Regions from separate parts of the Homo sapiens genome. Here all the other regions are linked to region 1. Evidence: fine-mapped expression QTL. A gene starts in region 1. Each other region holds a variant in brackets. All regions are shown on one strand. Distances are between the middles of the regions.

Region 1 (6,332 bases):
GAGTATGTTTTACCATAACTCAGGCTCAAGTCCGTACTTTCTCCGCCTCCACTGTTTGTAATGGCAAAATGCTCATCAGATCATCTCCACAAGAAACCCCTGAGCCATCTTTGAAATACCAGCACCTGGTGCGCTGCACCCACTAACTCATCATCTAGCATTAGGTATATCTCCCAATGCTATCCCTCCCCCCTCCCCCCTCCCCACCACAGTCCCCAGAGTGTGATATTCCCCTTCCTGTGTCCATGTGATCTCATTGTTCAATTCCCAGCATGGCACATGTATACATATGTAACTAACCTGCACAATGTGCACATGTACCCTAAAACTTAAAGTATAATTAAAAAAAAAAAAAAAAAAAAAAAAAACAGAAAGAGAAAAAAAAAAAAAAAGAAATACCAGCACCTGGAATAGCCTTGGGCTGCTGGTCATCCTCAGACTCAACGGCTGACCCATTTATATAAGTCAAGAGTTATAAAAATATAGAACTCATTAAAATTAAGACATAAGCAAGCTCTGTGCCTGGGAATCCCATAGGCTTACAGCAACAACTTCATTCTCCAAACCCCCTCTAACCAGTCATAATGATCCATACCCCACTTGAAGACAATGGTAGGTTGGAATGCAGGCCCACTTCTACACCTTCAATATAGGAAATTTTTGCTACTTAGCCACTACTCTCTTCAAAGTCAATCTCTTGAAGCCTAGCTATCTCCCACACATATTTTTACTTGGCACAACAGAATTCCTTCTTTTGATTACTCCAAAAGCATGGATAAAAGGACTTTCTGCTTCAATGCTGTATCATCTGAGAGTTCAAATAAATATACAATGGCTGAGCAAATTCAAGTTTGGGTTAAGGCAAAGAAAAAAATTCAAGTTTTTTAAAAGTCACAAATTTAGAACTGGAGAGCTGATCACATGAAAACTCCTGTTTCACATGCCTAATAAAATTCTTTCATTCAAAGGAAAAAAAAATCATAACTACCAGCGTAAAAAGAAAACATCTAAATCATGAAACAATTATCAAAGAAACAAAAATTCTCAGAACATCGCAACTGTAATATATAGAAATTCCCATCAAATAACTCAGGTGAAAAAAAAAAAAAATGGGACAAGCACCGTTGGCTCAGGCCTGTAATCCCAGCACTTCGAGAGGCTGAGGCGCAAGGACTGCCTGAGGCCAGGAGTTGGAGACTAGCCTGAGCAACATGGTGAGACCCTTGACTCTACAAAAATAAAACAAAAAATTAGCCAGGTTTGGTGGCATGTGCCTGTGGTCCCAGCTACTCAGGAGGCTGAGGTGGGAGGATCTCTTGAGACCAGAACTTCGTGGCTGCAGTGAGCTAGGACTGAGCCACTGCACTCCAGCCTGGGCGCCAGAGCGAGACCTTGTCTCTTTAAAAGAAACAAACAAACTTCATCTATTTACAGTCACACTTTTTTAGGTTGGTTTGTATATTCACCATATGCCCCAATAGTACTGAGACTTACTAACTTGTTTCCAGCTTTCTAGAGGACAATGTAGGTTATATAATATGTTCACATATAAGCTCTACCCTATTTCATCTACTTCTCCCCATATGACTTACTAGTACACATCAGAGGCCGGGCGCTGTGGCTAACGCCTGTAATCCCAGCACTTTGGGAGGCTGAGGCGGGCAGATCACCTGAGGTCAGCAGTTCCACCAGCCTGACCAACATGGAGAAACCCAGTCTGTACTAAAAATACAAAATTAGCCAGGCGTGGCGGCGCATGCCTGTAGTCCCAGCTACACAAAAAGCTGAGGCAGGAGAATCGCTTGAACCCGGGAGGCGGAGGTTGTGGTGAGCCGAGATCGCGCTGTTGCACTCCAGCCTGGGCATCAAGAGCGAAACTTCGTCTCAAAAATAATAATAATAATAATAATAATAATAATAATAATACACATCAGAGCAAATGTAGGCTACATAATATGTTAAAATATAAACTCTGCCCTGCTTTATCTACTTCTCTCCAAATGAATAATACATAATATCAGCGCATTTATTGAACTGATTTAGTATAGACACCAGTCTAACTCAAAGTCTAGAGCTAACCCCTCAGGCAGGTGTACATTTAATACAATTTGATGATAATGTATACATAAAGTTCAACTAGTCTTTCTCCTTAGAAATCTCATTGTCAATTTCATAAGGGACGCTCTACTGAGAAAATGAATCACAGGCCAGTTTTCTAGTACTAGGAGCTTGTGAACCAGTATTTTCCATGAACAAAATCCACTTCCAATGTGATCACAAAAAGCAAACTTCACATCCGTATCTTCTGACATCATAACTAATGGATATTCTACGGAAGATGCCAAATATAAACACTACTGTAAGAAAAGTCAGAAGGTTTTCATGAAACTGTGTTTTCAGAATTTTAACAAGCAACTACTTACCTCCCACTATGCACGAGGAAATTTAAATGTATTAAAAATCCCTAAACCCCTCCAGTGCCAAAAATAAAGGCCTTAAAATCATTTTCCAAACTGCGCTGAAATCTGTCAGGCAAGCAAAAGTTCTCCTTACCATTAGTGTAATAAGGCTGGCATTTCAGTTTACTTGCATGAAACCAATTTTGCAAGTGACCACCCAAGTTTTGGTACATATTCTAATATAACCCTATCTGAGAGATCCAAGGACCTGGACACACTGCCTAGTATCTGAAACCCGTCAGTTCAGCTCCCATGCACCCGGCCACCTCCCGCTAGCCGGTGGCCCCTTTCCACATGCTGACGCACTGCCCAGCCCTGTACCGTTGGCGACCAGTGCAAAGTACTAGCCCAGTCTCAGAAACTTTGACTCAGTTATCAGGACACTGAGCACTCACAAGGTGGGTGGGGGTTGGGGGGAGGTGTTTGTCATGGCTCAGGAGGTCAACTTTGAAGCGGGGCATTCCCTACAGGTAGGGATCTGCCCGGAACGCATCCCATCCCAAACTGCAAAACCACAAGCATCAACAGCAGGAGCCGAGCAAAGTGCTCGGCGGAGGAAGAGGAAGGGCGAGGGAGAGAAATGGTCGAGTACAGAAGCCTGCGTGTGGGTAAGAAAATACCCTAACCACTCGCCCACCGGACGCAGGGCGGCTGGGACTGCGAATCCAGCAGCAGCCACAGCGTAGCAGCGGGCGGCAGCCGCCGAGGCAGCAATGTCAGGAGGGCACAGCTGGAGGAGGCGGCCGCCAAAGCCACTACCCCACCCCCAGGTAAGGGCGCCGACCCCGCCCGCCCTATCCGCGAGGAGCGGCCACCTGGGAGAACTGCGGTGTCCGGGAGGCGGCCGACAGTCCTGAACCCGCCCCCTACCCTCCTTACCGCGGTCCTCCCGCATCCCAGTCCTCGGCTGGGGCCCCATCTCGACCCTCCCCAGGCTCAGCCCGACGCCAACACACCCAGGCAGCCTCGGCCCGCGGATCCGGGCCGCCGGGCCGCCCTCGTGTCCCTAGGAGGCCGTCCTCGCCTCACCTCTTCACGTCTCCGCGGGCGCTGCCGAGACAACAACTCCTTCAGGCGCCCGCGTTCCACCCTCCACCTCGCGCTCTGAAGCCGGGCCGGTCCCGTTCGCTCCGCCACCGCTGGAGCCCGAGGAGGGCGGAGGGAACTGAGAGGGGAGGGGAGAAGGGCCGCCTGGCAGGAAGAGGCGAGGGAGGGGGCGGGCCGAGAAGGAGGGGAGGAGGCGGTGGCGGCGGGTCGGAAGCGCGCTCGTCCAGGCCCCTCTGCGCGGCGTGCGCGCTCCTGATGTCGGAGGCGCCCACTCTGCCGGGCGGCGGCGGCGCACACGCGCGTGCACGTCGCTGCGTGGCCGCGGTTGCGCCGGGAGCGGAGGAGTGAGGTCCTGACAGAACCAGAGCTGTTAGAGCAGGGACGCGCGAAAGGCGGGAGTACGGGCGGCGCTGGAGAACCTCCGCGGCGGAGGGGCCTGGGGGTGGGACCGCGCCCGCGAGCCCGCCCTGACCGGGGTGCGTTCTACTGGCAGTTGCTGAGTTCGGAAGATTAACTCTGAATGTGGAGAGATTATTTTCTTGCTCGTAAACCTGGTTTACATATTTTCATTCTTAATGCTCAGTAATCTTAAGGAAAGTCACCTGAAAGAATACTTTTTCACCAAGTACTCTTCTGCGCCTGTTTGAAGGTGTCTGTGTGCTTGTGAAGCGCTCCCTTGTTAGTTCCTTCTGTGAGACTCGGGGGAGACTGAAGAGGGAAATCACCTGCGGGGAATGAACAGGAAAGCAATAAGTAAGCACCATTACGTATTATATGAAGAAAATGTGCCCTCATTTGCACCTTTTTATCCTTTGGGGTAAAAGATGTTGAGGTACAAACTAGGTAGAGGTAGAATAAACCAACGCTTTTTCGCTACGAAGATTGTACTGATCCTTGAATTGTGGACATCCTTCTTCTAGATCCTGCAACCAGAAATGACCTGTAAATTTTCCGAATCTCCTTAGCACTTTGTTCTGTAGTTTTGTGGCACCTAACATGTCAGGCTTATCCAGGTTGCCCTGTGCAGCATTTTATCCCACTAGACAACCGCTGTGAACCTGTATCATTCATTTGTATCTTACACTGTGCACCCTGCCTAACTCATAGGAAGCACTCAATGAATGTGATTGCATGGATAAGTGAATATAGTGTCCAGTGATTGCAGCCATAGAATGACTTTAGTTTAAATATCTCCCTTCTATCCCACTTCAATTCCCCTGCCCTCATTTTCCCACCCATATTTAAAAGCTACTCTGAGAAACGTGACATTTGTCCAAAGGGCCCTCCCTGACAAATTCCTTCCCCCCACACCCCCGCTTTTCCTGATGTTAATGTCTATAGATGCTGAGACATATCAAGAGTGTTGTAACTATTTTTTTGTTTCCCCTACCTTCTGGGCTGCTTCCCTTATTAACTTCTGTATCTCAGGAGCCTACCTAGCCCTGGGCCTGACAATAAATGCTGAAAGTTTTTATTATATTTAATAAAGTTAGGGTTAGAATAACATAAATCATCTGTTGATTTCCTGAGATGTACAGGAACTATTAATAAATCTGCCAACCAGTAAGTACTAAGCCTCTACTAAATAAAGTACTAGTAAATTTACACTGCGCGCCATGAGGAAATCAACAGTTGACAAAGCCGCAGTTTCTGCCTTCAGGTATCTTCTAACTGGAGTGAAGCTTTTTGACAAAAAAGGACAATGGATGTGGTAATTATGGGCATTCAATAGGTAACTTAGCTAAAAAAGAATTTAAAAAAAAAATGGCAAGTCCAAAACAAGTTTAGTGTTCCCCAAATTCAGTTCCATATGTCTTTGAAAGCAATAGTGGACACCACTGGCCACTGCGAGTTAATTCTTCTATTTAAGTGGAGCATGCTATCTTCATGTGCCAACTTGCTATAAGGAAAAGAAAAATCCTGTCCCATGGCCACATGTAACACCTCTCATCAACAGGGGTCATTCTTTAAAACTGAACTTTTCCTCACAGTACAACATAGATAAGAGACAAGTCATGAGAGAACCTAGATAAAAGACAATTAAGGTGATCTGATGCAAACTCATCCTTACCACCAGAAAAACAATTCTAAGCACATGCCAAAAAATTATTAACAGATCTTCAGGCTTTTAGTCGAGAAACTAAAAGGAATAAAAAATTAATAACAAAGCATTCTTCATGTGGTATGTGCTGCTCACTTCTCTTTCCACTGTGGCTTCATTTGCATTAAGCGTATCCTAGCAGCCCTGGTCCATGAAAGGACTGAAACTCTCACTTTGAGAGATGGTGTTATAAAATACTCCAGCATGATTCATAACATGACAAACTGGTGCCCCAGGTACAAATCAAACCCACAAACATGTTTTGTTTGGCATACATGGTGCTTAAAAAAACACATATCCAAAGTTAAAAACCAGAAGATTATACATGCATTTTGGGCTTCTCTTTAAAAAGTGGAAGATTTGGTAACAGTGAGCTTACATTATTACATGATAACGATCAGCTGCAGGACATGCATTCTCTCTTTTGCCAAAGTCTCTACATTCTCTATTGTATCTTACAGTGTTGTTTCTCTCATTTATGTCTGCAACTCCTAGTTTAAAATGTAATATCAAAAATTGGAAACAGACCAGGTGCAGTGGTTCATGCCTGTAATCCCAGCACTTTGAGAGGCCAAGGCAGAATTGCTTGAGCCCAGAAGTTCAAGATTAGCCTGGGCAACATAACAATACCCTGTCTCCACAAAAAAGAAAAAAAAAATTAGAAACAAGTTAAACATTGAACAATAATGTAAGAGTTTAAACTGGTATCTAATGGTACAGAATAT
Region 2 (6,332 bases), 63 kb after region 1:
AAGTTGTGAATGCAAAGGAAATGTACTTGAAGGGAATTAAAAGTGCTACTCCAGGGAACACACAAATGATAGATAAAAAGTAAAACAGCTTTATTGCTGATATGGAGAAAGTTTTAGTGGACTGGATGGAAGACCAAATCAGCCAAACATCTTAAACCAAAGGCTAATCCAGAGCGAGGCCCTATCTCTTCAATTCTATGAAGGCTAAGAGGGGTAAGGAAGCTGCAGAAGAAAAGTTTGAATCTAGCAGAGATTCGTTCATGAGGTCAAAGAAAAGAAGCCATTTCCATAACATAAAAGTGCAAAGAGAAACCGCAAGTGTTGATACAAAAGCTGCAGCAAGTTAGCAAGAAGATTTAGCTAAGACAATTAATGAATGTGGCTACACTAAACAACATATTTTCGGTGTAGATGAAATAGCTGTCTCTTGGAAGAAGAAGCCATCTGGGACTTTCATAGCTAGAAAGAAGAAATCAGTGCCTGGCTTCAAAGCTTCCAAGGACAGGCAGACTCTCTTGTTAGGGGCTGAGGCAACTGTTGACTTTAAGTTGAAGCCATTGCTCATTTCCCACCCCCAAATTCCTAGGGCCCTGAAGAATTATGCTAAATTTACTCTACCCGTGCTCTACAAATGGAACAACAAAGCCTGAATGACAGCACATTTGTTTACAGCATGGTTTAGTGGATATTTTAAGCCCAGTATTGAGACCTCCTGCTCAGGGAAAAAAAAAAAAAAATTCCTGAAAAAAATGTTACTGCTCATTGACAATGGACCTAGTCAATCAAGAGCTCTGATGGAGGTGTACAAGGAGATTAATGTTTTTTTCATGCCTGCTAACACAACATCCATCTATTCTGTAGCCCATGGATTAAGGGGTAATTTCAACTTTCAAGTCTTATTACCTAAGAAGCACATTTCGTAAGGCTGTAGCTGCCATAGATAGTGATTCCTCTGGTAGATCTGGGCAAAGTCAATGGAAAACCTTATGGAAAGGATTCACCATTCTAATGGCATTAAAAACATTTGTGATTGATGGAGCCTGAAGATTAACTGCAATGCTGCAATCTCACAATAAAACTTGAACAGATGAAAAGTTGCTTTTTATGGATGAACAAAGAAAGTAGTTTCTTGAGATAGAATCTACTTCTGGTGAAGATGCTGTGAACATTGTTGAAACGGCAACAAAGGATCAAAAATATTACATAAGCTTAGTTAATAAAGCAATGGTGGGAGGTTTTGAGATGATTATCTCCAATTTTGAAAGAAGTTCTACTGTGGGTAAAATGTTATCAAACAGCATTACAGAGAAATCTTTCATGAAAGGAAGAGTCAGTCAATGTGCCAAACTTCATTGTTGTCTTATTTTAAGAAATTGCTGCAGCCACTCCAACTTTCAGCAACCACCACCCTGATCAGTCAGCAGCTGTCAACATGGAAGCAAGACTCTCTATCAGCAAAAATATTAGGACTTGCTGAAGGCTCAGATGATTGTTAGCAACTTTTAGCCATAAAGTATTTTTAATTAAGGTATATACGTGTTTTTTTAACATAATGCTATTGCACACTAGCAATGGACTATGGTGTATTGTAAATAATAACTTTTATATGCATTAAGAAACAAAAAAAATTGTGTGACTTGGTTTATTGCCATATCCACTTTATTGTAGTGGTCTAGAACCAAAACCACGTTATATCTGAGGATGGTTTCCACCATCATCAAGTGGAAACAATGTAAACAGGACTAGACCCAACAGGTCCAAAGTCACAAGAAAGTTGCACATGCAGATGGCTCACACTGCAGCATGCCTTTTCTGATTACACTGCCACACTTTCCATATTCCACTCCTGTGGAATCACGGATACTTCCTTATGATCACTTGCCTGGGAAGGAAAAAAAAAACCTAACCAAATTTATAGAAATCTCTGCATGGTATGATAGCTCTTGCCCTAAATGGATTTCTGTAACATTCAGTTCCATCTAGGTAGACCCTGAAGGATGGTGGGAAAGGGATATCTTCCCTGTGGGAGAAACTTCAAGAACTGTAACTCACTGGGTAGTCTGCTCCTTGCAAATGAAAACATCCTATGTGATGTGAATTTTCCATGCAACATTGCTTCATTGCTTCAACAAATGAACTCTGTGAGTCAATATTCTGATACCCATTAGATTTACAGGTCTTATCTTGCACCCCATCAGCCAGAAGCAGTTGATGTTGATCTTATAGAATAGTGACATGGCTATTGAAAACCCAGTTACATTGCCAGCTCTCAGGCCATGCTATATTGGGGTGTGAAGCTGGGATGTGATCCTGCAGGATGAGGTAAATGCTCAGAACCTTTGAATAATACATAGTGCAGTTTCTCTTCTCCAGGAACCAAAGGAGTATAAATGGGGTTGTGCCTCCAAAAGTTTTATCAGTAGCCCTTGCATAAAATGTTTGTTTCCTGTCCTCATGACTTTGGTCTTTGATAATTTAGCAGTTTTAATAATTAAGAGTACACACACCAGGGATACAATAATTTTGTGGGATAGACAAGTAGAAATGTCTTTTAGTCAGAAAATACAGGGTCACAATTTAAATGAGAAGACAAGACTAGAGGTAACAGTTTGAGAGTCTTCAGGTGTCCGATGTGAAGGTGTAAGAGTAAATTAGTCCTCTGAAGGAGAGTGCAGACTGAGCAGCCAGCCAAAGACTGCAACCTGGGAAATCCTATAGTCAGAGGCTGAAGAAATGAACACAGGTTGAAACAATCTACGATAAAAATCAGTGAGGCATTTCTAGCTTT[A/T]AATAGTATTTGGCTAGCAGCCCTGCCTCAGGGTCTCTCAACTGCTGCCTAAAACCCATAAAAAGGTAAAGAAAAATGACAAAATTAATCCTAACACAGAGCATAAAGAATGACAAGCTGCTTGCTCATTACCAGGAGGAATTGCCCTAATTTATGAGGCTAATGGAGGTGGATTCAGAAAAACAGTTGTTGGCTTATCCATACTCTACTTCATGGTACAGAACAGATCCACCCATCTGAAAGAAAGTTTGGCATCTGAGCATCCCTTTCCCACTGTCTGCTCACTGAATTAGAGAGCCAGTGTCCATCAGAGCTGCAAACTAAGCAGCTGGCCCTCTTCGGCCTCTGTATTAGCCTGTTCTTGAATTGCTGTAAAAAAAAAATTACCTGACACTGGGTAATTTATAAAGAAAAGAGGTTTAATTGGCTCATAGTTCTGAAGGCTATACAGGAAGCATTGTGGCTTCTGCTTTTGGGGAGGCCTCGAGAAGCTTCCAATCATGGCAAAAGGCAAAGGGGGAGCAGGCATCTTACATGGCAGGAGCAGGAGCAAGAGAGAAAGTAAGGGAGGAGGTGATACACACTTTTAAACAACCAGCTCTCACGAGAACTCACTATCATGAGGCATAGCGTGAAGGGGATGGTGGTAACCGTTCCTGAGAAATCCACCCCTGTGATTCAATCACCTCCCACCAGGCCCCACCTCCAACACTGAGGATTATAATTCGACATGAGATTTGGGCAGAGACACAGATCCAAACAATATCAGCCTCTCGAATCTAAAATCCTGCTTTGAGACGTGATTATAATACTGTTAGAGACTATCATCTTTATGCATGTAACTGGGGACTGCAACTTCCGGAATTCAGTGGCGAAAGATGGGGTGGATGGAGAGACAGGTAATTGTCCATTTGCCCTGTCACATTTGTCCCTATGAATACAGTGTACGGGGAGAGTGCTGGCTGCAGTGCTTGCTGAAATGATAGCTGATCATGGATTCCATTGGTTTAAGACAGTGGAATAACAAAAGGCCCTGGGAATTACTCTCACGTAGGCATATCGATCTGGACTCTACTTAGAGATCTAAGAGTGGAGCCAAAGGAAATCCACACTTCCTATCTGAATAGATGACTGATATACTGGACATAGATGAGAAAATAAAGAAGGGAAAAACCTGTCCAAACTGACCTAAGATCTTAATTCTCTCCAGATTTAGCAGTATGAAAAGCTATCACATTCTTGTGTATTTTATTTCCTCAAGTTAACATTCCTGGCTGTCTCCAGATTCTACTAGTTAAGGTCCATCTTGCCTGACAACCTTTGAAAAAGATCCAGTTCTTGAGTTCATCTTCCCTCACAGATTTCAAGTTTCAGATTATTGTTTGCTTCTCAAGGCTGCTTGGCAAGGCTCTTAGACTTCAACTCTCCTTTGTTCCCTATCCACAGCTAGTGGTCAGCTCTGCTTACTTGCACATGACCTGTCCCAAATCCTTGGAACCTTGGTCCATATCACACTCCCAAGCCCTCTTCTTGTCCCAAGAGAAGCATAAAAAATAATATACAAAAGGGAAAGGATCATAATACAGAAGATTCAGAAGATTCGCTTATCTCTGAAAGTGATTTTCTAAGGAAATAGATACCTCTTTTAGAAAATTTGCATTCTCAAGAAGAAAGCAAGAAGATGAGGCTTGTATGAAACAGAAGCAGAAAGACAAAAGAGATGAGATAAAACCCAATCTGAGAATTACAAGTATGTTTGAGGAGTAATCTGGACTAATTTAAACAGAAGTAATAGTAACTCAAAGGCAAATTGAATAAAAATATCTAGACTTAAAAGAAGACCTAAAAGTAAAGAAAAAGGTGACATGAGATTAATGGTCAAAGATCCATATCTAGACATATCCTAGGGGGCAGAGAAGATAACAAGGAGTTTGCAAGCATTCCAGTAGACTAAAACAGATTACTTATAAATAACTAAAAATCAGATAACCCTCATTTAGAGCTTCCATTATAACAAAGTTTGTAACAAAATTTGGATGGATAAAATTTACAATTTAAGCTACTGTTTAAGTGCAAACTAATGTGTTTATGTACGATGGCAAGATAAAACATGAGAAGTTTCAGAATAAAATAATACCCATATTTTCTTCTTTAAAAAAGTCTTGAGCATAGCCGAGCACAGTGGCTTTTACCTGTAGTCCCAACTACTCAGGACTCTGGAGGCTGAGGTGGGAGGATTGCTTGAGCCCAGGAGTTCAAGGTCAGTCTTGGCAACATTGAGAAACCCATGTCTAAAAACTTTTTTTTAATAAAAAATAAATCACATTAAAGCTCTTTTAAAATTTGTCTAGCAGGTTTTCTGGTCTTTACCAGAAAGTCCCCGACAATGAAAAAAAATTTTTGTAAGAAAAATAAATTTTAAGAAATAAATCTTGGCTGGGAGCGGTGGCTCATGCCTGTAATCCCAGCACTTTGGAAGACCAAGGTGGGAGGATCACTTGAGCTCACGAGTTCAAGACCAGTCTAGGCAACATGGTGAAACCTCGTCTCTAATAAAAGTACAAAAAAAAAAAACCTAACTGGGCGTGGTGGCCCACACCTGTCATCCCAGCTACTCAGGGTGCTGAGGTGGAAGGATCGCTTGGGGCAGAGAGGTCGAGGATGCAGTGAGCCAAGATTATGCCACTGCACTCCAACCCAGGCAACTGGAGTGAGACCCCATCTCTAAATAAATAAATAAATAAATCTTGAGTATCTTCAACTAAGAAATCAGAATAAGAATTCCAAATGAAGGCCAGGTGCAGTGCTCATGCCTGTAAACCCAGCACTTTGGGAGGCTGAGGCAGGCAGATCACCTGAGGTCAGGAGTTCGAGACCAGCCTGGCCAACTTGGCAAAACCCTGTCTGTACTAAAAATACAAAAATTAGCCAGGCGTGGTGGCAGGCACCTGTAATCCCAGCTACTTAGGAGGCTGAGGCAGGAGAATCACTTGAACCTGGGAGGCAGAGGATGCAGTAAGCTGAGATCACGCTATTGCACTCCAACCTGGGAGACAGAACGAGACTCCATTTCAAAAAAAAAAAAAAGGAATTCCAAATGAGTAAGTTGTGCTATAAAATATGCACAATGGACATTAAAGCCTATTAAGTGTTATTTATTCAATTAACAGATACTTATTAAGTATTTTTACTATGTACTAAGCAATGGAAATGCAACAGTGAACAAGACTGTTTATTCCACTCGAGGGAAATAAAGACAATTCAATAAGTAATTATGGGTCGGGTGCGGTGGCTCACTCCTGTAATTCCAGTACTTCGGGAGGCTGAGGCAAGCGGATCACCTGAGGTCAGGAGTTTGAGATCAGCCTGTCCAACATGGTGAAACCCCATCTCTACTAAAAATACAAAAATTAGCCAGGCGTGGTGGCAAGTGCCTGTAATCCCAGCTACTCGGGAAGCTGAGGCAGGAAAATCACTTGAACCTGGGAGGTGAAGGTTGCAGTGAGCCGAGATGGTGCCACTGCACTCCAGCCTGGGTGACAGA
Region 3 (6,332 bases), 510 kb before region 1:
ATAAACCATCTACAGATGACTCCTTTAGAAAATGATATCCCTGGGGTTTAAGCTATCATAAATTTTTTGAATCCAGTATCTGTTCAAATTATGAGAGGAAAGAGGAAGGAAGGAAGGAAAAATTCTATTTTATGTAACATAAAAAAGAAAATCAGATTAGTATAGATACCACCATATCTATTAATCTATTACACCAGTTCAATTAATCAAACCATATGATGGCTGAAGCTAACAGTATCCAAAGATGTTGGAATACTACTGACCATGCTATCACTTCAGTAGAAGCAGTCACCAAAATATAAACTTTCATTGGAAAATAGATACATTTCTTCATTCATACACAAAGTACGTGCTTCTCAAATAATCCTTTTATATTTTAAAATCAGGAATCTTTTCACTTAGAAGTTGAAACTCCAAACGTTAAAATATTTGATCGGCTGCTTCAATCCAGGGAAAACTTCAGTTTGCTTTGTTTTTGCTTTGTCACAAAAACTATTTAAAATCTCTATGGAAGAACATTTTCTAATACTCACAAACTGAATCAGTAACCTAGTGAATTCTACAGTAACAGTTTCATCTGACATTTTACTACCAGGAGAAGCCTCTCAAAATCTGTAATGAAAAAACTGAAACAGTAAATCTAGTATGAATTCCCTAATATTTAAAAGGGCCATCTTCATCAACTACACTCAGCAAATCTATTCAAAAGCCTTCTTAGAATAATATATGTAGTCTCAACAATATACAGGTCTATAGAAGCTTCTGTTTTGTCAACTAAAATCAGAACTTCCACAGGATAACTAAAATATTTTATGGATAAGGTCATCAGTTAATACCCCATGCCCTAAATTACTTTTCAGGCTGCAGTCACTACTCCCAGGCCATCCATTACAGATATGTGGTAAATCAAGGTAGTATTTGTGTAAGTACCTGCTTCAAAGCTGCTTTTTCTTTCTTTTACTTCAAAAAAAAAACCCTCAGTTTTACTTGCAGGTACCTCTGTTATCACCACTGTGCTAGCAAGGTTTTTGTTACATATGAATAAGAATACAAATCTGGCTATTAAAATTTCACAAAAGGATAATGACAATATGCTTCTTTCAAAAACGTTTCTTGTTTCAGCCAAAAGCTTCTATTAGGAGAAGCATGAGAGCTACAGGGGCTTTTAAGTACCACTATGTTTGGGTTATAATTCAGCACGTGGCCTGAATCACATAGATTCCATGACATCTAAGAACCAGGTAATGGCAATGCAGTCTTTCAGCTATTAAAAACCCAAGGTAATTTATAGATTCAATGCCATCCCCATCAAGCTACCAATGACTTTCTTCACAGAATTGGAAAAAACTACTTTAAAGTTCATATGGAACCAAAAAAGAGCCCGCATCGCCAAGTCAATCCTAAGCCAAAAGAACAAAGCTGGAGGCATCACGCTACCTGACTTCAAACTATACTACAAGGCTACAGTAACCAAAACAGCATGGTACTGGTACCAAAACAGAGATATAGATCAATGGAACAGAACAGAGCCCTCAGAAATAACGCCACATATCTACAACTATCTGATCTTTGACAAATCTGAGAAAAACAAGCAATGGGGAAAGGATTCCCTATTTAATAAATGGTGCTGGGAAAACTGGCTAGCCATATGCAGAAAGCTGAAACTGGATCCCTTCCTTACACCTTATACAAAAATTAATTCAAGATGGATTAAAGACTTAAATGTTAGACCTAAAACCATAAAAACCCTAGAAGAAAACCTAGGCATTACCATTCAGGTCATAGGCATGGGCAAAGACTTCATGTCTAAAACACCAAAAGCAATGGCAACAAAAGCCAAAATTGACAAATGGGATCTAATTAAACTAAAGAGCTTCTGCACAGCAAAAGAAACTACCATCAGAGTGAACAGGCAACCTACAAAATGGGAGAAAATTTTTGCAACCTACTCATCTGACAAAGGGCTAATATCCAGAATCTACAATGAACTCAAACAAATTTACAAGTAAAAAACAAACAACCCCATCAAAAAGTGGGTGAAGGACATGAACAGACACTTCTCAAAAGAAGACATTTATGCAGCCAACAGACACATGAAAACATGCTCATCATCACTGGCCATCAGAGAAATGCAAATCAAAACCACAATGAGATACCATCTCAAACCAGTTAGAATGGCGATCATTAAAAAGTTAGGAAACAACAGGTGCTGGAGAGGATGTGGAGAAATAGGAACACTTTTACACTGTTGGTGGGACTGTAAACTAGTTCAACCATTGTGGAAGTCAGTGTGGCGATTCCTCAGGGATCTAGAACTAGAAATACCATTTGACCCAGCCATCCCATTACTGGGTATATACCCAAA[T/G]GACTATAAATCATGCTGCTATAAAGACACGTGCACACGTATGTTTATTGCGGCACTATTCACAATAGCAAAGACTTGGAACCAACCCAAATGTCCAATAATGATAGACTGGATTAAGAAAATGTGGCACATATACACCATGGAATACTATGCAGCCATAAAAAATGATGAGTTCATGCCCTTTGTAGGGACATGGATGAAATTGGAAATCATCATTCTCAGTAAACTATCGCAAGGACAAAAAACCAAACACCACATGTTCCACTCATAGATGGGAATTGAACAATGAGAACACATGGACACAGGAAGGGGAACATCACACTCTGGGGACTGTTGTGGGGTGGGGGGAGGGGGGAAGGATAGCATTAGGAGATACACCTAATGCTAAATGACGAGTTAATGGGTGCAGCACACCAGCATGGCACATGTATACATATGTAACTAACCTGTACATTGTGCACATGTACCCTAAAACTTAAAGTATAATAATAATTTTAAAAAAAGAAAAAAAAAAGAAAAAAAAAAACTCTGAACACTCAAAAACAATTTATTTTATTACAAATCATGTTTATGGAGGTATAATTTATATGCAGTAAAAGTCATCCTTTGCTCATTTTCCTTGAGGAAGACATACTATGGGATTTATTGATGACAAATACTTCTACATTCTTTAAATATTATCTCTGTGTGAAGCTAAATAATGAGGTAGCAAAGTACCATATTCCACAGAACTATCTTTATTGAGTTAGCATTTGACATTACATATTCAGCCTTTCAGACTTCAGCATGCTCAACTCTAGAACCCCAGTCCATATAAGAATTTTGATTTAGGTACCACATATGCATCTTTTATAAAAGCACAATGAAGTCACTGTCTACAATATTACTCCAAATTCCCATACCTAGTATAACCATGTATCTCTGGTTATGTTTTTCCAATTCTATGCCTGAAAAATAAAAAAAATTGTGACCTTATTTTTTAAAAAGAATGCATTAAGAAGAGAAATATGTAATTTAGCATTTTCTTTTTGCTTTCATTAGCAGAAATTAATAATCAAATTCGTTACTCAACTGTAGAAAATAGCTCATCTCAGGTACCTGATAGCATCTTGGTCACTGCGTTTATCTATTTTTACATGTGTTTTAATTTTGTAAACTCTTTCAGATCTTTTAGTAAATAGAAAGGCAATCACTCAGTCTAAAAAAAAATCATATTATGGTCCATTGTTCTCCTTTAACTTTTTCTGCTAATGATATTATCACTCTCTGTTCAAATGAGAGAAAAATTAGATCATGGGAATCGTTATCTAATGAATGTGAAATGACCTTTTCTTCATTATCATCAGTTTCCAGACCTCTGCCTAATCTTGAAAGATCAATTAGTATCCTTTTACTTATTTAATTTTATTTAATTTATATAGTTATATTTGATTGCTTAATTTGTACTTTTATCTAGAGCTATGGGTGTATGTGAGCTCATGGATGTGGAGGAAAGGGAACCCTCATACACTCTTATGTGTGTATGTATTAGGGGTTGGAAGTAGGATAAAGAGAGAATACAGAAAGAAAAAAGGAAAGAAATTATGGAAAAGTTCGAATCCTATCCCTATTTGGAATATTCCTGAATACAGTAGCCTGTATGTTCCTTTTCCATGAACTAGGAACTCTGAGATTTGTTCATGACAAAGCATGTTACATGAATGATAAGTATATTCTCAAGGCTTCCCCTTTCCCATGAAAGATGTCTAAGTGCAGGATTCCTTAAAACTGTAAATCTCCAACCGTAGTATAAAACTAGAAATCAGTAACAGGAGGAACGTTTAAAAATTCACATGTACATGGAAATTAAACAGCATGCTCCTGAACAATCAATAAGTCAATGAAAAAATTATAAATAAAATTTAAAATTTTTTTGAGAAAAATGAAAATGAAAATACAACATACCAAAACCTATGGGATGCAGCAAAAGCAGTTTGAGAGGGAAAATTACAGCAATAAATGCCTACAAAGAAGACAGGTTGCAAATAAAAAACCTAATCTTGGATCTCAAAGAATTAGAAAAACAAAGACAAACTCAGCCCAAAATTAGCAGAAGAAAGAAAATAAAGATCAGACCAAAAATAAATGGAATGGAAAGTAAAAACAAAACAAAACAAACAAAAACCTGTAATCCCAGCTACTCAGGAGGCTGAGGCAGGAGAATCGCTTGAACCCGGGAGGCAGAGGTTGCAGTGAGCAGAGATTGAGCCACTGCACTCCAGCCTGGGTGACAAAGGGAGACTCCATATCAAAAAAAAAAAAAAAAAGAAAGGAAAAAAAAAATCAATGAAATGAGTTGTTCATTTGAAAACATAAAATAAACACCTAGACTAAGAAAAAGTGAGAGAAGACTCAAAATCAGAGATAAAAAAGGAGACATTACAACTGATACTACAGAAATTAAAGGATCATAAGAAATTATTATGAACAATTATATGCCAACGAATTAGATAACTTAGAATGGATAAATCTGTGTACATATGCAACTGATCAAGGATGAAATATTACTGATTCAGTCTCCTTACTCATCTATTTCTTCATGTAGATGAGTAAGGAGACGACTGAATCAGTAATAAAAAGTCTCCTATCAACAAAAAGCCAGATAGTTAAAAAACTACCAAATATTTAAAAATATAGCTGAATTCTACCAAATATTTAAAACACTAACACCAATTCTTCTCAAACTCTTCCAAATAATTGAAGAGGAAGAATTACTTCCAAACTCATTCTGCTAGACCAGCATTACTCTGATACCAAAACCAGACAAAGGTACAACAAAAAAAGAAAACTACAGGCCAACATCTATGATGAACATACATGCAAATATCCTCAACAAAATACTAATAAGCCAAATAGAACACCACATCGAAAAGATCATCAACCACAATCAAGTAATTAATCCCAGGGATGCAAGGATGATTCACTATATGTAAATCAATAAATGTGATACATCACATTAGAAGAAGAAATGATAAAAGTCAAAGTCATTTCAATAAATGCATTAAAATCATTTGACAAAATTCCACATCACTTCATGATTTAAAACTCTCAAATTAGATGTAAAAGAAATGTACCTCAAAACAGTAATGGCCATATATGACAAACCCATAGCTAACATCATGCTGAATGAGGAAAAGCTGAACTGGAACAAGATATGGATGTCCATTCTCACTTCTATTCAACACAGTACTGGAAGTCTTAGCCAGAGAAATTTGGCAAAAGAAAGAAATAAAAGGCATCCAAATTGGAAAGGAAGAAACCGAATTGTCCCTGTCTGCAGTTGACATCATTTTATATATGGAAAACCCTAAAGACTGTACCAAAAATCTTAGAACTAATAAATGAATTTAGTAAAGTTGCAGAATACAAAATCAACTTATAAAAGTGTGTTAGTAGCATTTCTATGCACTAACGGTGAACTATTTGAAAAAAGAATCATGAAAACAATTCCATTTAAAACATCTACAGGTTTATATCTGAAAGACAGGCAATAACAAATGCTGGCAAGAATGTGGAGAAAAGGGTACCTTTATACACTGTTGGTGGGAACGTAAATTAGTACAACCACTATGGAGAACTGTTTGGAGGCTCCTCAAAACACTAAAAATGGAACTACCATATGATCCAGCAATCCCATTGCTAGGTATAACCAAAAGAAAGGAAATGAGTATATTGAAGAGATATCTGCACTACCATGTTTGTTATAGCACTGTTCATATTAGCCAAGACTTGGAAGCAACACAGAGTCCATCAACAGATGAATGGAAAAAGAATATGTGGTACACATAAACAATGGAGTACTATTCAGCCTTAAAAAATATCCTATCAATTGCAACAACATGGATGGAACTGGAGATCATTATGTTAAGTGAAATAAGCCAGGCACAGAAAGACAAACATCACATTTTCTCACTTATTTGTGATATCT
Region 4 (6,332 bases), 240 kb after region 1:
CGCCTGGCTACTTTTTTGTTCACAGTGACGGTGTTTGGCCATGTTGGCCAGGCTGGTCTCGAACTCCTGAGCTCAAGTGATCCGACTGCCTCGGCCACCCAAAGCGCTGGGATTACAGGCGTGAGCCACCGCACCCAGCCTCCCTTTGCTGTTTCTCTTTCACCACCTACAACTTCCCAAACTAATATAAAAGCAACAAGCTTTGACCCCACACAACTCTCTCTTGCTCAGCCTCCAAAGAATAGCCTTGTCCAATGTTTCTGTTCATACAAGGTGTCAATTCTTCTGGATGAGTAAGCATTTTTCACCTTACTTGATAATCTAAACTTTCTATTTGGGAGGAATTTAAAGTGCTATATTTCCTGTTATTAAGTTAGCAGAACTACTCTGGACCTGGATTTTTTCAAACATGAATGTTTATCAAGTACTTGGTACATTCAACAGGACATGTTCAATAAATATTTGCTGTTTTGATTTGGTTTCCCTGAAGCCAAAACTGAACTTTCTAACAGGAGGATTTGGGCAAATTCCAGTGAGATGCCTTGAGAGCCTCAGCTAAATGCTGCTAAATGATAATGTAGGATTTATTTTGGTAAGTTTAATTTCACCTTAATTAAAATGTCATGTTCACCTAGTAAACTGGGAACCCAAGGGAGTTGGAGACTGCTTTTTGTGCTAAATGTTTTGCCAAATTTCCATGGAAGGGTTAAGCTTTGAGTTATTCAGTAACCACAGCAGAAGCTGGGTCCTATCTCTTCCCTGCCAAGGTCTTATTCTTGAGTCCAAAGGAAAGAACAGAACAGCCCAGGGTATGAGGCAATGGACATGGACCTGCTGAATTACCTGCTCATGGAAGTTACTACTGAACTGGAAGCAGGGCTAGGGAAAGAGGAATTTTATCACTGATCTTGAAGGAAGTACTAAAAAAAGAGAGGGTAATCAACTGCTATGTTCTCTCCTCTTCATGGTTCCTTGAACCTACTCCTAACACAGCAAAGCACAAGCCTTCCAATCTTTTCACTCAGAATTGAGAAAAACAGTGCCACACAGAAGTAGGGAGTCCTTTTCAAAAACTGATTTTTTTGTGATAAAAGTTCTTAAGATGTCTATCTCTTTCTAATATTTCCAGTTCTAGAAATATTAGAAATTTCCATGAAAACGTTAATTTAAAGAAAAATTATTTTTCTTTCTTTTTTAGAGACAGGGCCTTGCTCTATTGCCAAGGCTGGCGTGCAGTAGTGTGATCATAGCTCACTGCAGACTCAAAATCCTGGACTTAAGAAGTAGCTATGGCTGGCCAGGCATGGTGGCTCACGCCTGTAATCCCAGCACTTTGGGAGGCCAAGGCGGGCGGATCACAAGGTCAGGAGATCGAGGCCATCCTGGCGAACACGGTGAAACCCCGTCTCTACTGAAAAAACAAAAAATTAGCCGGGCGAGGTGGCGGGCGCCTGTAGTCCCAGCTACTCGGGAGGCTGAGGCAGGAGAATGGCGTGAACCTGGGGGGGCGGAGCCTGCAGTGAGCCGAGATGGCCCCACTGCACTCCAGCCTGAGCAACAGCGAGACTGCATCTCAAAAAAAAAAAAAAAAAAAAAAAAAAAGAAGTGGCTATGGCTACAGGTGCACGCCACCACACCCGGCTAATTTTTTCATGGTTTGTAAAGATGGGATCTCGCTATGCTGCCCAGGCTATTCTTAACTCCTGGCCTCAAGCCATCTTCTAGCCTCAGCCTCCCAAATCATTACAAGCATGAGCCACCATGCCCAACCTAAAATATCTTTATTATATTTAAATATACACAAAAAATACTTTTCAGAATACCTATGTGTGTGTAAACACACACACAGTCACAAATTAGTTTGCCCAGCATACAAGCTCTTTTTTTCTTTCCCAGTCTAAACAGTCTAAGATGAACCAAGAGGAAATGGATCTGGGATCATCCAAACCTTGATAGTATAATAAAAGCCAAGGGGAGCTGTGTGCAGTGAGTACCAGAGACTAGGCTGGTGGTAAAGTCTCCCAGAGACCAATGAGAACTCTTGGGAGACCTGCAGGAGAAGCATAGTGGAGAGGGCGAGGCAGCCCGGGATCCAGCAGATGATCACTGCACCCACTATCCCTTGACTGTTTCCTGACTGTGTCTTCCTCCAAACCACTGATGGCAATGTTGGATAGGACAGAATGAGGCACATGGCTTCTCGGTCCGGAAACATGATTATAGATCCGTTTCTTTCATTCCAGGGCATGGGATCTCAGTTTCCCAAATGTGCTGGGTCCAAGAGGTGAGAGGCAGGGAATACCTGGGCTGATAACTTCCAGGGCTTAGGATCAGTCTCATCTTCATCATGTGGCTTATAGACCGACCTGTGGAAAAAGAAAGAGCTAGTGTGCTGAATGCCCAGGCTGAGTTGTGAGTATGCTCATTTGGGATGTGCATCAAATAAAATATGGATAGACAGGCCGACTGTGGTGGCTCATGCTTTTAATCCCAGCACTTTAGGAGGCTAAGGCAGGAAGATCGCTTGAGACCAGGAGTTCGAGAGCAGCCTGGGCAACATAGTGATTTCGATTCTACAAAAAACAAATTAGCCATGTGTGGTGGAGCATACTGTAGTCCCAGCTGTGGAGGCTGTATATATATTATATCTATATTATATATAGATATTATATATAGAGAGAGAGGGGTGGGGGAGAGAGAGAGATAGAGGCAAAGGAAAATGTGGTAGTCCCTGGGTTCATTTCTGGGCACTGGATTTGGAGGGAATTGTGAACAAGTTTGACAGAGACTATCCAGAGGAGAACCAGATGAAAAGCAGTTGGACACTGTGGGTTGTAACATGGGAAGTCCTGGGCATTTCTTTCATATCTATCGTGCTGGGACACAAGGGCTTTGAGAGAAGCAGAGGGAGGTTTGAATCTCAGCTCTGCTAGCTTTGCAATTTGGGGCAAATAACTCTTGTAAATAGTAGTGTTCTCATCTGTAAACTGGGCATAATTAGTATCTTTCTGGTAGAGCTGATGAGAGAATTATATAAGCTAATGCCTGGGAAGCATTTAGTATAGACCCTGATATATAGTGTTTTTAAATAGCACCTATTAAGATGGCACCTATATGATCATAAATCATATTCAAACTTTTAAAGAGTCTGACCTAGGCTAATGTCTAACACTAAAGTAATGGTTAAGTTCTAGACTACTGAATATTATACAGCCATTAGAAACTACTTTCACAGGCAGGGCACACCTAAACACCTCTTTCCACCTGCAGACCCGTTCT[C/T]CTTTTCTCCCCTGTCACCAGCCAGGCACTCAGCCTGCCTCAGGTTCCTCTTTGGTGCTGCCACTGCCCTCATCCTGCCCTGCTCCTCTTCTCTCCCCAAGCCTCTGTGTGAATACAACACTGACACCCTTGTGTCATAAAGTCAAGACATATTGAATAGGTGATACATTGACATGTTCAACATTAGAAAACTAAATAAGATGGTACATATTGATAAGTCTACTCCTACCCTTGTCTCTAGCCACCCCTCACCCCATCATCCTCACTTTGTGTTACAAAAAGCACAGCATACTATAAACACTTTCTGCAGCTTGCTTTTTCCCCACATAATTATCCTAAGGACCCTTCCATATCAGTACATCCATATAGAGCATCCTCATTCTTTTACACAATGGCACAGTTTTCCATTGTGGGGATGTGCCTTGGTTTATTTAACCAGTCTCCTACAGATGGAAGTGGTGTCCAACTTTTTGTTATTATGAATCAGGTCATGGCAGCTAACCTTGCTGAAACCCATGCAGGTGTAGCTGTAGGATGAATTTCCTGAAGTGGAATGTCTGATTCACAGGGTACATGCATTTGTAATTTTGGTGTTTCCATGTTTCCCTACAAAGCACCTACAAAGACTTATGGCACTTTGTACCCCGAAGAGCAAAGGATGAAACAGCTTGTTTCCTCACAGCCTAGTGTCTTGTCTAACTTAATCTCTTTTAATTCTAATGGTTTTTGTGATAATCCTTTTTAGAGAAACATGGAAATAACAGGGAGGGAGGAGTGCTTTAAAAGTCTTGCAGGGGCTGGATGTGGTGGCTAACACCAGTAATCCCAACAATTTGGGAAGCCAAGGCAGGCAGATCACTTGAGCTCAGGAGTTAGAGGCCAGCCTGGGCAACATGGCGAAAACCCATCTGTACAAAAAGTTTTTAAAAATACATAAATAAAGCCAGGTGCGGTGGCTCATGCCTATAATCCCAGCACTTTGGGAGGCCAAGGCAGGCGGATCATCCGAAGTCAGGAGTTCAAAACCAGCCTGGCCAACATGGTGAAATTCCGTTTCTACTAAAAATACAAAAATTAGCAGGGCATGGCGGTGCATGCCTGTAATCCCAGCTACTTGGGAGGCTGAGGCAGAAGAATCGCTTGAGCCCAGGAGGTGGAGGTTGCAGTGAGCCAAGACTGCGCCATTGCACTCTAGCCTGGGTAACAAGAGTGAAATTCCCTCTCAAAATAAATAAATAAATAGCCAGACACAGTAGCACACACCTGTAGTCCCAGCTACTTGGGAGACTAAGATGGGAGGATTGCTTGAGCCCAAGTTGTCTAGGGCTGCGGTGAGCTAAGATGGTGTCACTGTACTCCAGCCTGGGCAATAGTGAGACCATGTCTCAGAAAAAAAGATTAATTAAAAAAATTTTTGTAAGTCTTGCAAAAGGATCATTGAGGGAAGCTTAAATTAGCAGGTGAAAATTTGATGGAAAACAATATATTTGCATACTCTCAAGTATGTGAAGTATCCCCACAAGACATTTAACAAAAGGGGAAACATTGTAATTTTACAGCAGAGAAACTTGGCAGACACAATCTTGTAATCCAAGTTAATCACCAGTGATGGGATAAATTAACATCTGTACCTCCTGATGCGATACACTGAGAAGGACACAGTATTACCTCTGTTGTATTCCTGCCCCGAAAAGGATAACTTGAATCTAATCCTGAAGAAATTTTAGACATACCAAATTGAGAGACAGTCTTCAAAATTAACTGGCCTATATGCTTCAAACAAGCCAAAATCATGAAAGAAAAAGAGAGGAACTGTTCCCATCCAAGTACTAACCGGGGCCGACCCTGCTTAGCTTCTAAGATCAAGCACTTTCAGGGTAGTATGACCATAGACGAGAGGAACTGTTCCAAGCTGCAGAAGACTAAAGAGACATGACAACTAAATGCAATGTGTGCTCCTGCCCCAGGGAAAGGAGAAAAAAAATTCTTTTCTTTTTTTTTTATTGGCTATAAATCAGTGCTTCCCAAAGCATGGTCCAGGGACCCTAGGAGATTCAGAAAACCTTTCAGTAGGTATATGAAGTCGAAACGATTTCACTTTATTTATTTATGTTTTGAGACAGGATCTTACTCCATCACCCAAGCTGGAGTGCGGTGGTGCCATCATGGCTCACTGCAGCCTCAACCTTCCAGGCTCAAGTGATTCTCCCACCTCAGCCTCCTGGGTAGCTGAGATTACCAGCGCATACCTCCATGCCCAGCTAAGTTTTTGCATTTTTTTATAGAGATGGAGTTTCGCATGTTGCCCAGGCTGGTCTTGAACTCCTGGGCTCAAGCAATCCTCCTGCCTCGGCCTCCCAAAATGCTGGGATTACTAGTGTGAGCCACTCAGCCTGGCCAAAACTATTTTAATATGTAACTATTTTAATAATAATATTTAGATGTTCTTTGGCAAGACTATAAAAGGATTCTGAAACAAAGAAGGTGAAAACCATTGCTTTGAAAACCAGGTGTGGTGACTCCTGCCTGTAATTCCAGCTAGTGGGGAGGCTGAGGCAGGAGGATTGCTTGAGGCCAGGAGTTTGAGACCAGTGTGGGCAGCAGAGCAAGACCCCCATCTCTAATGGCAACAGAGTGACAACCAGTCTCTAAAAACATTAATTGGATGATTGGCAAAATTAGAATAAGGTTTAGAGATTTTTAAATAGTACTATATTTGAAAATAATGCTGGGCGCTGTGGTTCATGCCTGTAATCCTAGCACTTTGGGAGGCCAAGGCAGACGGATCACTTGAGGTCAGGAGTTTGAGACCAGCCTGGCCAACATGGTGAAAACCCGTCTCTACTAAAAATACAAAAAAAATTGCCAAGCATGGTGGAAGGGGCCTGTAATCCCAGCTACTTGGGAGGTTGAGTCACGAGAATCTCTAGAACCTGGGAGGCAGAGGTTGGAGGTGGGCTGAGATCAGGCCACTGCACTCCAGCCTGGGCGACAGAGTGAGACTCCGTCTCAAACAAAAAAAAGAAGAAGAAGAAGAAAAGAATATGCACCAG
Region 5 (6,129 bases), 870 kb before region 1:
CAGCCACAAGCCAGGGAGCCCAACCTGGCAAACCTCATGGGCTGAGAGTCAGGCCCATGTGCCCCCTGGGCCAGTCACAGTCCTATGATCCCAACCTGCACACTGTAGCCAGTGGCCCGGCAGGCAGAACTAGAGGGGTGGAAAATCAACAATCCTAAGTCTGCAAGGCAAGAAGACATTGAATATGTGGATGGAAAATGAGACTCAGAAAAGGAAAACCTCTCTGCATGCATATTATCTGCAACAAATCAAAACAAATAAGCAAGCATCTCGAGATTGCAGGAAAGAAAATTTAACACTTCTTTTTTTGAAGTCAGGAATAGTAAGTGAAAATTGAGTGCTATATCCACTACTACTAATTTAAAATGTGCAAAATGTCAATCGCATTGTCTTTATTTAGACATCAGCTTTGATAATTAATGTAAAGATGACTTTCCATAAATTTACCCCCCCTCAGAGCCATATTTTTCCACGTGATCTCAAGTTCTGCAAAAGAAAAATGTCCTTTCTCCTTACCAAAACCCCTGCAGTGATTCCAGCCTGACGAAAAAGCGCACTCAGGTCCCTAAACTCAGGCAAGCTAACTAAAACATTTACATGGGACTGTGTTGACATGTGACATATTCTGCAACACTACCTCCCCTATCTTGTCACCTGCTCCTCACCTCCTTGGGTGACAGGAACTGGTATGTGCCTGTGTTCAATTAAGCATTTGATGAACTAAAGGGGACTGAATGGAAAGGCTGGCAGAAAGAAAGGCTTCGAGAGGAAGAACCACTGAAGGGGAAACAGATGAACAATCCAAGGTGGTCAGAGGTGTTTATGGGGAGAGATGGAAAATCACGGTGCTGCAGGCATTGACAGCAATCATAACATCATGTTAAGGGGTTTAAACTTTATTTTGTAGGTGATAAGTAGCTACCAGAAATGAGTAGTTGTAGTCCTAGAAACTTCACTTTGGCAGCAGAAAAGGATGAATGCTTTTGTGGGAGAGATGATGGGTTAAGTTTAAAAAAAAAGAAAAGGGAGAGGCAAAACAGCAGGTAAGAGTCCAGTTGGTCCTAGTACAGAGAAGAGATGAAGAGGGTCTGAACTAGGGGAGTGGGAGCAGGAATGGGAAAAATTAAATAAACAATTTGAAGTAGAATCAACAAGATTTGGATGATCGGTGGGAAGGGATATTTTTTATCTGAGCCTGAATTCTTCCCACCACCCACAAAAGAAGAATCGCACGGTGGCTCACGCCTGTAATCCCAGCACTTTGGGAGGCCAAGGCGGGCAGATCACGAGGTCAGGAGATCGAGACCATCCTGGCTAACACGGTGAAACCCCATCTCTACTATAAATACGAAAAATTAGCCGGGCGTGGTGGCGGGCGCCTGCAGTCCCAGCTACTCGGGAGGCTGAGGCAGGAGAATGGTATGAACCCAGGAGGCGGAGCTTGCAGTGAGCCAAGATCGTGCCACTGCACTCCAGCCTGGACGACACAGCGAGACTCCATCTCAGAAAATAAATAAATAAATAAAATAAAATAAGAAGAATCCAGGACAGAGGTGTGTGTGCCATTTGTTTATTTGGGAGCAAGAGTGAGGGATCAGGGCAGTGGAACAAGAACGAATGAAAAAGAGAAACAAGGACGCCACTAAGTGACTACTAAGTTAGCAACTGCTGCGGCTGACTGGAGCTTGATGTCTCGCTAAGGCCTTCCAAGGAGCCTTATGAAATGTGTTATCCCTTGGCTTCCATCTCCATTGGTTTAGGGTGTCCCCATGGGCATCACTCCCCCTGCACTTGAAGCTATGCATACATGACAGCTGAGCAGGCTCCTGGCTCCTCAGGTGTCCATACCAACACCAAAGAAGCCCCAGGGCAAGGCATGAGAGGTTCCTGATGTGAACCCAAGGTGAGTGTCACTGCAGCTGGACTAAGCTGGTAGCAGCCTGCTTGGAAGTGGTCAGCCAGGCAGTAGCTGGAGCAAGAGGTCTGGCTAAAGACATGAGAGAAAAGGAGCCAAAGGTGACTCCTATTCCCAGTGAGGCCATTCGTCAAGACATAAGGCCTTTAGAACAAAGGAGGCAATCTGGAGGAGACAGTTTTTACTGAAGTTTATGTGGGAACGCAAGGCCTTACATGGGCTCCCCCTGTGCCCCCAGTGTTCTCACCTCACCTACCTTCTTCCTCTCACTCACTTGGCTCCAGCTGCTGCCTCCCTGTTCCCCCTCAGACACACCATGCACACACCCCACTCAGCCTCCACAGCTGCCATTCCTTTTGCCTGGATGTCCTTCCCCCAGAGCCTCCTAGCTCACTCCCTCACACCCTTAAGGTCTCTGTTCAAATGCTGGCTCATCAGAGAGCCCTTCTCTGACCACATTAGGTAACAGTATCTCCTACCATAATGCTCTTTTTACTCTGCTTTTCTCTTCATAGCATGTCTCCATTTGACACATAATTATTGATTTGTGAATGGCTCTTCCCCTTTCTCCACTACAGTGTAAGCTCCATGAGGGCAGGGACTGTGTATCCTGCTGTATCCCCAGCTCCTAGAACAGTATCTGACATGTAACAGGAACGTTCAATAAATGTTTGCTGAAGGAATGGATGCTTACTAGCTCAGATTGGTACACGTGGAGTTGAAGGAGCTCTGGCACCTGGGCGAAAAGGCTCATTGGAGATATAAGTGTGGACTGGGAAAATGCAAGTGGCTGAGATCATGAGAGCCTGTGACCTGGGCTGGCTTTGCAGGTATGTCACTCATGTGTCACACAGCCCCTGCCGTTCTTGTGTGTTTGTGTGTGTCTGTGCATGTATCCCCATGCCTTCAGGAGAGCCCTGTGCTTGGTTTAATGTTCTACTGTCACTATCTTGAAATTCTGAATCATTATGTTTTTGAATTTGTGTCTTGTAAGTGAGGTCCAGTGGGACAATGGAACATCTGCATGAGCAGAGGGGACACATGTGCCCATCGTTCCTTGCTGCTCCCTTTGTATGATGCCCCATCCACATGGAATTCTGGTGGCCCCATGATGTATGGGAGATTAATGGGACTCAAAGCGAGTCCAAGGTAAGAGTACTATGTCTATGACTGAGTCAGCTGGGGCACTGGCAACCCCAAGAGGCCACTAGAACTTGCTTCCTATACATGAAGGTGTTGACATTCTAAAAGGACAATAGTTCCTTTTCCTTTCAGTCCTCTCTTACTCATGAGTAAGCCAAAGTCAGAAGGTGCTGGTAGAATGCACGTGGATCAAGAAGTAAAATAAAAGCAACTGAGTTAGTTTTATGCAATATTTTCACTGTTCTGGTAAGAACAAAACACAAAGGCATATACAAGCAACAAAATAAAAATTGTATAATTTCACTGATTCTGCCTATGAGTTAAATGCTCTTACATTTGCACGGTGAACTGGCATTCCCCAATATGACGATGAGTGGTAAAATTGATGCTAATGATTTAAAAGTACATTTAATGATTTTGTTTTTCTTTACTTAGAACATTAATAGAAAATTTAAAAATCCCATAACAAGTCCAGAGTCCAGGAAAGAAAGGAAGAGGCTTCATATTTTACTACCTTTAGCAGCACTTTTTTCCCTGCTTTTTGAACAAGAGGCCCTACATTTTCCTTTTGCACTGGGCCCTACAAATCACATAGCCTGTCCTGCCTTTGACTCCCACGGAGGCGGCAAACTCAGTCTCAAACACAGGTCCCACTTGACGATAGGCGAAGTGTCATTATTTTATTTGGGGGACAGCTGTGTGTGTGTGTGTGTGTG[TGG/G]TGTGTGTGTGGTGTGTGTGTGTGTGGTGTGTGTGTGGTGTGTGTGTGTTCAGTTTGCATCAGGCCCTGTGTGTGGGAACCGAGGATGGCTGTGTGTTGGAACGCAGATGTAGTAATACTGCCATCTCGTGTTCAGCGTGGTGCACAGCACATAGCTCCAGGGAAGGCTCACAGGCATGGGACCTGTGGCTGCTTCCGGAAGTGCTAAGGCCATCCACACTCTAAGGCCAAACCGGTAAACCAATAGGATTGCTATTCCGCTGGTAGCCTTTAATGAAGGCAGATGTGTAATGAGAACAGAGGTTTCACCCACTATCCATCACACCATTTCAGAGCCACGGTTGAAATGCGTGTGTGTGTGTGTGTGTGTGTGTGTGTGTGTGTGTGTGTGTGTGGTGCATGTGTCCCCGTGCCTTTCGCTCTCCTTCCACAGGTTCTTTTCCTTTATTATCGCTTTCTTCCTCTTTGTAGTTCCCTCTCATAGCCCAAGAAATCTGGTTCTTTTGAGCCATATCCAGCTCTCACGTGGAAGGCCCATGATGAAGCACCAGGGGAGTGCATTGGGGCAGGTGTTCAGGCCCAAGGTTGCTGGTGACTCAGCTGAGGCCAGCTAAGAACAAGCACACACCAAGTAAACATTCTTACTGTGTGGCACCAGAAGCTGCAGTCAAGTTAGTTTTGTAACTTGCCAGTTATAAAATAATGAAAAGGAATAATTAATTAGTCCTCTCAGAAAACAGAGAAGTTAAGGAAATGATCATTCCTGTATTAGGTAAAGATTAGACACCAAAAGGACAGTTTACTTGATGGCATACACAGAAGCCAGAGAAATGAAGACGAAGGGAAGAGTGAATGGCTTGGTACTAAATATGAACGAAGCAAGCATCCCTGAATTCTTAATTTCTTGCTGCTTTGGTCAGGGTTCGGCCTGTGCCTGTCCCCAAGAATAAGCCAAGGATATTGATGGGGACCAGGAATGACCCCTTCCTATATGCACCTTGAAAAACAGATTTTTCAAATACTTTGGGTGAAATAATATAAATATAAAAAGACAAGAACAGGTTAATATTTTTAAATCAACTTCAACACATATGTGAATCTAATAGTATAAATTATAGAGAAATTGGAAAATTTTAAAGACCATAAGAATAACCAGTAATCTGCTCACTCATCTCTACTCTTAATATTTAAGAGTAGCCTTTTTTAATCTGTCTATTCTATACCTACACCTGTATCTGTAAATATATATATATATATTTTAAATTAGAAACCCATCAGATTTTTAAATTTAGGATTATAACTTGATTTCTTCATTTAACCCTCCACTTACTGTTAAGTTATTTATTTGTTGTTATAGATAAGACAATGATAAATGTCCTTTTATATAAAATTTAGAGTTTCTCAGTATTTCCTTGGAATAAATTCCTCAAAGTGGCATAATTGGATCAATAGTTACAAACTTTGAAAAGACTTGCCAAATTGCTTTGCAGACAAGTTATGCCAATTTATATTCTTATCACTCGACTATGAAATTACCTATTTCCTCACACCTCTGACAATGCCGAATTTTTTTTAACCTTTGCTAATCTGCTAGCTTAAATAGATCTCATTATTTTAATTTGCATTTCCTTGGAAACTAGTGAGGTTGAACACATCTAATGTTATTAGACAGTCTGAAAATTGTCTACTAAGATTTAAAAGTGTAAAAAATATATTCAGCTAGGCATGGTGACTCACATCTGTAATCCCAGCACTTTGGGAGGCCAAGGCAGGTGAAATGCTTGAGCTCAGGAGTTCAAGACCAGCCTGGGCAACACGGTGAAACCCCGTCACTACAAAAAATACAAAAATTACCCAGGTGTGGTAGCCCACACCTGTAGTCCTAGCTACTTAGGAGGCTGAGGTGGAATCACCTGGAGCCCATGAAGCAGACTGAGGTGAGCTGAGATCGCACCACTGTACTCCACCATGGGTGACAGAGTGAGACCCCATCTCAAAAAATAAAAATAAAATAAAACAATAAAAATTAAAAATATATTCATTTTTATTTTCTTCTGTTTTTTAAGCCTTTGTTAGTATTTACCTTTTTATCTAAAATTTGATATGTGGTAAGAGATGAAGATATAATTTTTCCCAAATCTTTACCCAGTTGTTCTAGCACTAGTTGTTTAACAATTTTTATGCTTCCTTTAATACATAACCAAATTCTAATTGCACTGGAGTTTCTATCAGGCCTATCTATTCTATTTCACGTAACTGTCTGTTGATTTTGGCGCCAGTACCACATAAGCTCAATAACTACGGCTCTATAATGTATGGTATATTAATATCTGGTAGGGTAAGACTATTCAGT

Which allele goes with the higher level. Positions count from the first base shown, and alleles are read on the strand shown. Sizes are in standard deviations (SD) of each study's normalised expression. Not every link is listed here.
With allele T in place of G in region 3, the expression in fibroblasts of the gene that starts at base 3,626 in region 1 is lower (moderate effect, 0.61 SD a copy in GTEx).
As copies of T replace C in region 4, the expression in thyroid of the gene that starts at base 3,626 in region 1 goes up (moderate effect, 0.44 SD a copy in GTEx).

The links.
Region 2: its variant is fine-mapped to the expression of RABGAP1L in whole blood (TOPMed, PIP above 0.99).
Region 3: its variant is fine-mapped to the expression of RABGAP1L in fibroblasts (GTEx, PIP above 0.99).
Region 4: its variant is fine-mapped to the expression of RABGAP1L in thyroid (GTEx, PIP above 0.99).
Region 5: its variant is fine-mapped to the expression of RABGAP1L in whole blood (INTERVAL, PIP above 0.99).

Annotation. Positions count from the first base shown.
Region 1 is chr1:174,156,814-174,163,145 of GRCh38, reverse strand. RABGAP1L (RAB GTPase activating protein 1 like) reads right to left here and starts at 3,626. Exons shown (of 26, transcript NM_001366446.1): 1 at 3,489-3,626. RABGAP1L-DT (RABGAP1L divergent transcript) reads left to right here and starts at 3,859. Exons shown (of 4, transcript NR_121197.1): 1 at 3,859-3,982; 2 at 4,156-4,259. RefSeq lists silencers at 3,221-3,400, 3,521-3,920.
Region 2 is chr1:174,094,079-174,100,410 of GRCh38, reverse strand. It overlaps the pseudogene RNU7-78P. Among named protein-coding and RNA genes, the nearest start is that of RABGAP1L-DT, 62 kb to the left of the region's middle. The variant A/T (reference allele first, on the strand shown) is at 2,789.
Region 3 is chr1:174,670,621-174,676,952 of GRCh38, reverse strand. All of the region lies in intron 14 of RABGAP1L (RAB GTPase activating protein 1 like), which reads right to left. Among named protein-coding and RNA genes, the nearest start is that of GPR52, 230 kb to the right of the region's middle. The variant T/G (reference allele first, on the strand shown) is at 2,366.
Region 4 is chr1:173,919,911-173,926,242 of GRCh38, reverse strand. It overlaps LOC124904457 (a long non-coding RNA gene), which reads right to left. Exons shown (of 2, transcript XR_007066739.1): 2 at 1,765-2,366. It also overlaps the pseudogene RNA5SP67. Among named protein-coding and RNA genes, the nearest start is that of SERPINC1, 5.8 kb to the right of the region's middle. The variant C/T (reference allele first, on the strand shown) is at 3,280.
Region 5 is chr1:175,027,696-175,033,824 of GRCh38, reverse strand. No RefSeq gene overlaps it. Among named protein-coding and RNA genes, the nearest start is that of MRPS14, 7.3 kb to the right of the region's middle. The variant TGG/G (reference allele first, on the strand shown) is at 3,775.